2 linked regions of the Homo sapiens genome follow. The protein of the gene in region 1 purifies or fractionates together with the protein of each later gene. This does not show direct contact. Each region holds a gene or a part of one and is shown on either strand. Other genes may lie near its edges.

The links. Proteins that work in one complex are often made in the same cells at the same time.
Region 2: the proteins of QKI (region 1) and ATE1 purify together in Homo sapiens (affinity purification with mass spectrometry; 2 studies listed by BioGRID and IntAct, with this or other methods). This does not show direct contact.

Annotation. Positions count from the first base shown.
Region 1 is NC_000006.12:163,410,611-163,417,717, forward strand, and holds the start of QKI (KH domain-containing RNA-binding protein QKI), read left to right. Parts: upstream 1-4,107; 5' UTR 4,108-4,354; coding exon of another isoform or gene 4,355-4,566; 5' UTR 4,567-4,583; coding exon 4,584-4,725; intron 4,726-7,107. Other genes in the region: basic proline-rich protein-like, read left to right, coding at 2,596-3,475, 3,639-4,058, 4,355-4,566. UniProt on the Homo sapiens protein: RNA reader protein, which recognizes and binds specific RNAs, thereby regulating RNA metabolic processes, such as pre-mRNA splicing, circular RNA (circRNA) formation, mRNA export, mRNA stability and/or translation.
Region 2 is NC_000010.11:121,739,906-121,743,049, reverse strand, and holds the end of ATE1 (arginyl-tRNA--protein transferase 1), read left to right. Parts: 3' UTR 1-2,626; downstream 2,627-3,144. UniProt on the Homo sapiens protein: Involved in the post-translational conjugation of arginine to the N-terminal aspartate or glutamate of a protein. This arginylation is required for degradation of the protein via the ubiquitin pathway. Does not arginylate cysteine residues.

The DNA of each region.
Region 1 (7,107 bases):
TGATGTTAGAATGTGGAACCATTTTTAGTGTCAACATATTAGATGACAATTTTTCACAGTGAAAAAACCTATTATAGGGATCTTCAACTGGAGGCTCATTCTGTATATATACTCACTACATGTTGTAATTTATTTTCAATACTGTATTAAGATAACATTTTTGTAATAATGTAATTATTACAAAGTTAGTCTTTCTACATTTTTTTTTTTGAGACGGGATCTTGCTCTGTTGCCCAGGCTGGAGTGCAATGGTGTGATCACAGCTCACTGCAACCTCTGCCTCCCTGATCCTCCCACCTCAATCTCCCAAGTAGCTGGGTCTACAGGTATGTGACACCAGACTCTGTTAATTTTTGTATTTTCTAGAGAGATAGGGTCTCACTATGTTGCCTAGACTGGTTTCAAAATCCCGGGCTCAAGTGATCCACCTGTCTTGGCCTCCCAAAATGCTGGGATTACTGGCACAAACACCGCACCCGACCCTCTGCAGCTACTTACTCCTCCTAAGCATCAGCCCTCTCATCTCTGAAATATGGCTCTTCCTGCCTACCTCAAATATTGGCTGTAAGGATGAAAATAAACAATGAAGATAAGGGTTTTGCAGAGCTTCTGGTCCATAACAAGTACTTAATACTTCTTTTGGACATATATTTAATAAGTGCCTACGTGTACCATATGCTGATCTAGGTGTTGGAAATTCCTAATAGAAGAAACTCCTTTTTCTCATGGAGCTTACAATGTTGATGCCAGTGGCAAACGAGTTGACCCATTGTTACGTGGAAACAAATGGTATGAAAAGAACCTGGGGTAAGCAGATGGAAGAAGGGAGGAAGTGTTTGCGTGCACAAAGGCGCCATTTTACATAGGGTGTTAAGGGACACCTTCTAAAGATAAATAGGGGCAGGGGTCGCCGATGTATGGGGAAAAGCTTTCCGAGGAGAGCAAACACCAAGGGCAGAGTCCTGGGGAGGGTAAGCATGCTTGGAATATTTAAGGATCCAGACGGATTCCACGGGGGTGCAGCCAAGTGGGCTGTGGGAGGAGAAGGACATAAGGTCAGTGATGCACCAGGGGCACACCTGTCGTCTTGCAGGACTTGGTAAGCTCTTCGGATTTTTTCTTTCTTTCCTTTTTTTTTTTTTTTTTTTTGAGATAAGAAACCATTGAGGGACTGTCAGGAAATGAGGTGATCTACATAGATTTGAAAAGGTAACCTGCCAGGCACGTGGCTCACGCCTGTAATCCCAGCACTTTGGGAGGTTGAGGGGGGCGGATCACCTGAGGTCGGGAGTTCGAGACCAGCCTGACCAACATGGAGAAACCCCCGTCTCTACTAAAAATACAAAATTAGCTAGGCGTGGTGGCGCATGCCTGTAATCCCAGCTGCTCGGGAGGCTGGGGCAGGAGAATCACTTGAACCGGGGAGGCAGAGGTTGCAGTGAGCCGAGATCGCGCCATTGCACTCCAGCCTGGGTGACAAGAGCGAAATTCTGTTTCAAAAAAAAGAAAATTAACACACAGTAGCTATTATCAAATGCTGTAACCGTAAGTGATTTAATACATAGGAAATGAAAATTGCCTATCATTGTTCTTTAATCTGGTTTAAGTGGTTGAGCCTTATGACACTGCCATTTCTATGGGTCAAAAATGGTGGAATATTGTCATAAAATTCAACCTGATTTAAAGGATAGGGCAAGGAAAAAAAGCAAAAAAAAAAAAAAAAGCTTTAGAATAAAATATAATTGGATTATAATCCCAGACACAGGACTCACTAGCTATATTCTTGGGCAAGTTACTTAACTTCATCTTTCTTGGGTTTCCCCTTATTTGTAAAATGGGGATAACAGTCTAACCTAAGCCCAAGTTGTACTGATGATTAAACGAGATATGCATGTAGGGCATTCAGCATAGTGCCTAGGAGCTTAATAAATAAGCAGGCCATTAAGAAGGGGATTGCATCTTTTACACTAGCAGCATCAAAACCTTGATTTTGATTTTTCTAGGTACTGAAACAGCCTTCATTACTTAGAGACCATAGCTTTTTTGCAAGTTACTATTCCCTGCATTTAGAAAGTTCATCTTTAAACAGGCAATTCAGTAAGTAAATATTCTATGGCTCTAAAACAGATACGGCTGTTGGAGACTTTAAAACATCTGACAGTTACATTTTTAATGTTGTCTACCAAGGCTATTACATTTCCTCTGTCAAAGTAACTTAATTTTAAAAACGAACTCTGTGCTTGTTAAACGAAAAGGCCAGAAGGCTACTGGCTACTCAGCGTTCATTTGAAATTCTTATAGTGCCTTCAGTACAATTCAAACTTAGAGGTGATTCTCACAATTCATGTGAAGCAACATTTTACAAAAAAAATCACCTACGTTCACTGTTAAGTCAGAAGACAGAATGATTAACAAAATCTCAGCCGCGAATTACTCTCACGATGGCCAACTGGATATTAAATAACTCTGCATTATTTTAATGGAATGTTATAAAGGATTTGCAACAAAATGCAGACGTAGATTTAGGGACTGCCGACTTCTATAGATCAAGGACTTCATTGGTGCAGCTGAGGAAATTCTTCCAAACAAGTCTAAATGTTGGAAATCCACCAAACTGCAGAGAAAGACCTCTTGCCTCCGTATTCTTTCTTCATCTGTAAAAATGTTGACTTCTGCTTTTCAGACTACGCGCACAGCCTCTTTATTTCCTACTGCGGCTTCATTCCCTCACGGAACACTGACGCCATCGCGAAGGAAGCATTTCGAGCACGACTGACGCTCCCCTTATTATTTGCTAAGCCGCTGCGCTCGGGTCTGGCTACGATTTGCTTTCAGAATAACGGGAAGGTGCAACAAGATCGCTTCCCTAGAGGCGCGTCGCCCGCGTGGCCCGGACCCCCCACGCCCGCCCGCCGCCCCGTGGGTGCGCACGCGTGTCCGCGCAGGCTTCCCGCCTGGCGAGTGCAAGGCTCCTCTCCGCCGTGCTGCTTTCCAGCCTCTCAGCAAATCACGAACACCGAAAGAAGCCACGGCGGCGACGGGAGGGGCGTCGCGCGTGCTTCCCTCGGCGACAAAGCGGGAGCCGGGCGCGCCGGCCGAGGGCGCCCGGCGCAGAGTCCCGCAGAGGCGGACGCCGCGGCACGCGCCTCGAAAAGCCTCAAACTCTTATCCTCGGCTCTCCCGCCCCACCTCCGCCCCGCAGCCAAGACCCGCGCCGTGGCGGGCCCGACGGCCAAGGAAAGCCCACCAGCCCTCCGCACCGTGGGCGACGGGCCAAGACCCGGCCCTAAACGGCCAGACCCAGCCCCTAGTCGGCTGCCGCCCCCGCCCCACGCAGGCGCGCTCCGGGGCCCTCCCCTCCCCCACCGCGCGCTCGCGGGGCCCGACGGGGGCGGAGCGACCCTCGGAAGGGGCGTGGCGACCGGGCTCGACGCGCGCACGCGCTCTGGAGCCCCACGGCTACGTGTCGGGCCACGTGATGCCCACCCCGAAAGTCCCCCGTGAAGCAACAGGACGTTAAAAAAAAATTTCTCTTCTGCGGGGTGGATAAGAGGTTCTGAAAAAACTATAGTAACGGGAGGCGAGGCGGAGGCAGCGCTGGCGCGTCCCGCTGGAATTCCTCTCGCCTGCCGCGCCAGCCCCGACCGCGCCCGCAGCCCCACCCGCCCCGTGCCGTGGAAAGCCCCGCGCCCCCCCCGCGGCCGTCGGCCCCGCAGCCCACACCCACCCGCCCCGGGCGCCCCGCACGGCGGCGACCCAGTCCTTGCGCCCAGGCCCGCCGAGCGCCGCAGTCCGTCACACTCCCGTTGCCCCCGTCGCCCGCCCCGCCGGGGAGGCAGGGAGGAGGGGGCGCGGCGCCGGCGGCTGCCCCGGTCGCGGGGCGGCGGGCAGCAGGCAGCGGGAGCGCGCCGGCCGGGACCCGCTAACGGCCGCCCTGCGCGGCCCCGCCCGCCGCCCGCCCCCGGCCCTCCCCGCGCCGCTGCCCCTCCCCCCGCCGCCGCCGCTGCTGCCGCCGCCGCTGGCAGCGCCGCCTGAACTGAGGCGAACTCCGCCGCCAAGTGAGTGAGGAGGAGGAGGAGGAGAAGGAGGAGGAGGAAGAGGAGGAGCGCAGTCGGAGCGCGGCGGCAGCGGCAGAGGCGCCGCGGCGGGGACCAGCCCAGAGAGACCCCCCGAGCCCGCGGCACAGGCGGCGGCGGCGCTGAGCGGGCTCGACCAGCCGAGCGAGCGGCGGCCCCGGCTCCTCCTCGTCCGGCGCCAGCAGCCCGCGCCCCGCGCCCGCACTCGGCCAGCCGAGACCCGCCTCCCGCCCGCCCGCCGGCCTCGTGAGGGACGCGCCGAGCCGGGCGGCCGAGAGCGGCGGCGGCTGGGAGCGCGTCGGGCCCGGGCGGAAAGTGCCTGCGGGGGGCGGGCGAGCGCGCGGTGCCGGCCGCCCCGGGGCTCGGCGCGGGAGCCAGAGCGGGAGCCGGCGCGGAGCGGGACGCCGGGTCCCGAGCGGCCCGCGGCCGGGGCTCGCCCCCGCCCCTCCCTCCTCTCCGGCGGCGGCGGCGGCGGCGGCGGGCGGAGTGAGCTGCGGAGCCTGGAATATGGTCGGGGAAATGGAAACGAAGGAGAAGCCGAAGCCCACCCCAGATTACCTGATGCAGCTGATGAACGACAAGAAGCTCATGAGCAGCCTGCCCAACTTCTGCGGGATCTTCAACCACCTCGAGCGGCTGCTGGACGAAGGTGAGCGTCTCCAGGGCCCCGGCCCCGGCCCGACCCCCGCCGGGGCGGCCCCTTTCCCCGCTTGGGATGGTGGGGAGGGCGGGAAGGTCACGGCCGGGCGGGACCGAGCGCCGGGGGGACTGGGAGGCCAGGAGGGCGCACAAAGGAGGTGCCGGGCCGGGCTTGCGGCGGGCGGGCGGGCCGGGGTGGACCCGCCGGTGCCGGACGCCCCCTGCCCGGCCGGGACCCCGCGCCGCTGGCGTCCAAGTTGGCGCGTTGCGGAGGGCTGCGGGGTGAGCCCTGCGGCCCCTCTAGCTTCGGCGGTCACATTTCCGAGAGGTCGGCGGGGGCTGCGCGGACTCGGTGGTCCTCGCCGAGCCCTCCCGAGAGCAGGCCCACGCCGCGCCGCCGGCCTGGAGGACGCGTGTGCCCGGCGCGGGCCCCGCTCCTCCGCTCGGCCTCCCGAGCCTGCTCTGCGCGGACCCCCACCGCCCCGCGTTCGGGAGCTCTCCCCTCCCGTGAGGACTAAAGCGGGGTTTCGTGGTTGGGGAGTTGGTGCAGCTGTTCAATACTAAGTGGAAGTCAGTGTGGGGCTCGTTAGTTTAAAGAAATTCCGTAGGAGACCGAAATTATGCTGGCGTAGCCGACAAGGAGGACTAAGTGACGGCGAAAAGCACTTTTTTCCCTTTTGTTTGGGGAAGCGAGAACTGTTAGGGAGTTGAACTTCACTTTTCGGGGGTGGGGGGGGGGGGGGTGGAGTGCGAAATAACGCGATGACAGATCGGAGCGCAGCCTGAGTTAGAAGAACTTGGGCGGAGGGTTTGCTCCCGGGGACGCAGCCGCCTGAGTTTGTAGGACAGGGTTTCGAGACGTTTGGAAAGGGCGAAATAAAATTGAGCCAAAGTTTCCAAAAAGCTGTATGGAGCGCTGTGGGGAGTGAAGAATGACAAGAAGATTAATGTTGACCAACTTTGGAATTTCCTTAAGAAGTTCTCATAGCAGTACCTGAAGTATTAATTTCTAGTAGCTGTGGGTTTCTGTGGACGCCTAGAGAAAAAAAAGACCACAAAAAAAGTCTGTTTCGAAAATCGACTGGCCAGGAGTTTGTTTGTTTTTTTTTCCTGCTTAGAGGCACCACCGGAGGACTGTGTAAAGGAAACTGAAAACTACAGGTTGAAGAGATGAACAATGGAGTTTAGATTTTTCGCAAGAATTTCGAGATTTTAAAAATAGAGTCGGGGAACAGGAGTTTGAAGCTTGGGGAGTTGGAATGTCACTAGAGAACAAAAGGCCGGAAATGTTTCCATGATAAAAAATGGTTAAAGAAAAATCCCAGGAGTTCTGTTGTCTTGAAAGTCATAGAAACAACTTAAAAGTAGAAAATGGTTAGGTGTTACGGCTTTCTCGTCGTTTTGCTTCCGTATGTTAAACATACAGCACTCACCAACGTTGAAATGGGCATTTTCCGCTGTTGGAACAGCAAATCTGTTAATTTCAAGTTGCTCCAGAGAAAACCTGAGCTGTCCCTTTAAGGGGTTCTGCTTTTCCTATTTGTGTTGGCATTTGAAAGATTGTGGAGGCAGAAAACTTTCTGGAATGTCAAAAAAAAAAAAAAAATGCTGGAACTCTTAAATTGAGTATTTCCAAATGTGAGCGCTAAGGGGCGCCAGTTATTTTTTAACCATGGAAATGGTTGGAACAAAATGTGTAACATACTCAATCTGACTGACCTATATTAAATTTAGTTGAAACTTAAGTTATAGATTATTTGATTTGTCATAATGTGTTTATATAGTGTTTTCGAACATTGAAAATACTTTCCTTAAAATTATTGGCACAACTTTATGACGTTTCAAAATAACACTCTTACTGTCTTCTCCTTGGCATATTTTGGTTAAGTTAAAGTTTTAGTAGTATTAGTAACAATTTCTGGTGAAAGTTTGTTTTCTTGAGTGCAGTTGTTTAGAAGGAATCCTTTATCGACGATAAAATGAAAATAGGCCTTGGCAATATTTAGGGTTAATTAAAATTAAATTGCATTCCTGAAATGTCGAATTCAAAGACTATAGGAGATTCCAAAAAAAAGTTTGAAAATACTTTCACCTTATGTATACTATTTAAAAAGCTGCATACTTTTGCGTTCTTTAGTTTTAAAAGGCTTCTTGTGCTTTTATGTTGATCTAAAATCTCTAAATTTAGAGCTGATTCCTTGTTATCAAGTTTCCAACCTTAGGCTTTAATAATTTTTAATCTTTCAAATCCAGAAATTTCAATTATGTCATTGTCTCTGACAAAGGCTTATTTCTCTCTGGTTGGAAATAGTACTCGTTTGCGTTTTAAATGTAAGAGACCACTATGATATCTCCTAGATAATGTTTGTTTCCCCTTCCCCTTTTAATGTGG
Region 2 (3,144 bases), on another chromosome or scaffold:
GGCATAGTTTTTTCCCCTAGAATATAGTACTCCCTTTTACTCTAAAAAATATCCCAGTTTGGACAATAAAATACATAATTACTCTAGTTATATTATTTGCTTTACTTCTAAAAATGTAAGAAATTGAATTTTTTTAAAGAAAAATGTTGGTTCCTGCCTTGATCTAAGTCTCATCCAAAGGAAATAAATAGTCACTAGTTTTTTATCTTACAACTCAGGACATTTGTCTTTGGTTATTAATGGAAATTAGTATGTGATTACTTTCATAGTTATGCCACAAATCACATTGAAGAAGGAATCATTCCGACCTCTGTTCCAGGACAAGAGCTAGAACAATCCATTTCTTGTCCTTTGATTTGAGAGTCACAGTCAGGGTGGCTTCTGCCACCCTTAGTAACTCAGAGCAGAGGCCAGCCCCCTCCTTCCCTCACTTTCTTTTGCTGAGTCCTTTGCCCACCTGTCAAGGTGGCAGGCACTGTGCTGGGTACAGGAGGACAGTCAGACATGTCCCTTCTTAGCTATAGTCGAGCTGTCTGGGAAACAGGATGAAAAACAGGAGGGTTATTTTCTTGTGCCCTCTTTGTCAGCTGATCCCCTCTTCTGCTACCAGCTATTTGGCCAGCAAGCCGTTTTTAGTCCCCACTTTGCCCATTTTTCTGTTTTGGTTCATCGTTTCTTAAAAGCCATGTTATAAAACATGGTAGTTTGAATCCTGTTGCTAATTTTAAACTTTCCTCTAAAATGTACTGAATTTTGACAAAAATTTGAAAATATCCTCAGCTAACTAGAATAAAAAGGATCATAAAACAATGATTTTAAAACTGAAATCTCTAGAAACTCAACATCCAAGTCAGCCGCATTTCTTCATTCAGAGTGTGTGTGTCACACCTGCCAAGGTGCTGCGTACTCTGCTAACCGAGCTAGAGTAGTGAGCAAAGCCATTTTCTCTGATCACAAGATTTTACATTTTTCTGGGATTTTGACCTGCAAAGTAGTCTCGTAAGAGCATTTGAGAGACTTACTTGGAACTGCCTTCAGAATCTATAGAGCCTTTTTTCTCTTTTTCCTCTAAAATGAAAAGAGCTTCATTTTATGATTATAACAAAAGTGACACTGTAAGCAGTTAGAACATTAAGAAGTATAAATAAAAAGTAAAAATCATCTACAACCCTACCATACTCAGAAGGAGAAAAGAACTGTCATGTATGTATACACACATACCTATGTAATTTTAATATAAATAGAATTATGTTCTACATGCTGTTTTATTTCCTCAACAGTAAATTATGGACATGTCTGAAATGTGAAATAAATTTCAAAATAAGGCTTCAGAAAGTGTAGTAAGTAATCTCTGCATTATTAAAAATAAGCAGGGTAGGGCTGGTACTTGGCTCGCTTAGCATTTGAATGTCCAACTTGGTGTTATCACTGTATCTTCCCTCCATTTGTCTTTGTGATTAGCATGTAAAATGGTATTCATAAAGATCACAACCCTTGAATATCAGATGAAGAGAAAACTTGACTCCAACATCTTACCACAACTCTGGTTTCTTCCTGCAGAATTCATTTTCAGAGGAAAATGATGAATCATCCCTGTCTGTGAACCACTGTGCTTTCCTTGAGGGTGGCATTGTAGGTTGACACCAGCAAAGACTCAGAGTGACTTGAGCATTGGAGATCCTTCTACTTGGCTGCTGTATTCATGCATTATGTTGGTTTGAGAATAGCTAGTGTATTGATCCAAGTAGTCAAAGTGTCTTAAAAGGACACCTATTTGTCCTTTTGAGCCCCAGCTGAGTGAATACTGATAGTGGACTAGAAAAGCATAGTCAAGAAAAGTGACCCACCTTGTTACTTGACCAGCAGTCTAGCTGAGAGATCTGATTTTATGTTCGTAACTTTCTGTAAAGAAAGACACAAGGACTTTTCAAAGACAGTTTATATCTTTCCAAGGCAGGAAGCTTTGCATTTGCAATCTTAGTGTTGTGTCCCTTTCTGATTTTCAAATACATCACACCTGCCTTCCTGTTTTGGGAGCAAAGATGTAATTTCAATTCCCCTTGCTACCGTCCTTATTTAAATTATTTCCATTCTAAGAGATTTTTGTTATTTTTTTAAATGTAATCTGAGCACTTTTTTGTATTCTAAAAGATAGATGATATCAGATAAATATGTTGTACATTTGATTAAAATTATTTAGATAAATATTACTATGTTGACTTTTAAATAGCTTTATCCTATTTTTCATTCATTTTGCAAATATTTGTTGTGTGTAGTTTCTTAACGTGTCAGAATCTATTATGTAAAAGAACCTTTCCAGATTTCTGAACAGTATATGCTTTGATTTTATAGGCTTTATATTATTTCAGTATGAATAAAGATAAGGAATATGAAACAGTTAACTAAAATGTATCTGTCGTTGCTAACTTGAAAAATGAAGTAGAAACAGTTGGAAAATGTTTGAATTAGAAGTTATTCAAGTGCACACTCTTTTCTAAAAGAAAGCCAATGACTATAAGGCAAAAGAAGTTTGACTGCATGTGGTATTTTTTGCTCTTGTATATGCTTTTTGAACAAGCTATTTGATAAAGCCTGAATGGAAAAAATAAAGCTGTTTCTATCTGCAGTGGCTCTTGGTGGTCATTACTTAAAAGACATATGTTTTCATCTTTAAATTCCTGAACACATTTCACCTGCTGTGAATATGTAGAAAACAGAGGTAAAACATTGGCTATATGAGTCATAAAATTTAATTTTCACTAAATGGAGTTCCAGACCATGTGGTTATCTAAATCAAAGTACGGTGGATTCCTTTCTCAGAGAGTAAAGTAAATCCCATTTTAAGCCAGAAGTCTGGATTTTCACAAGATAAATTAGGGAATAGACTTTTATAACCCAAAGGGATTCAAAATAGGACTTTATCAAATTCAAATATAATTTATCTTAGAACGTTTACAGAGAAATTTTAAAAAATATAAAGTGTGCTTTAATTGTTCATAATAGTCTGTGGTATATTTATGCAATACATTTACTAGTGTTTTATCTCTTTACAGTAAAGAGGGTCCTGGTAGGTTGGTGATAAAATGAATCCTATTTCCAAGTGATTTAAATATTAGTTACAATTCCCACTGTCATTTTTTTCCT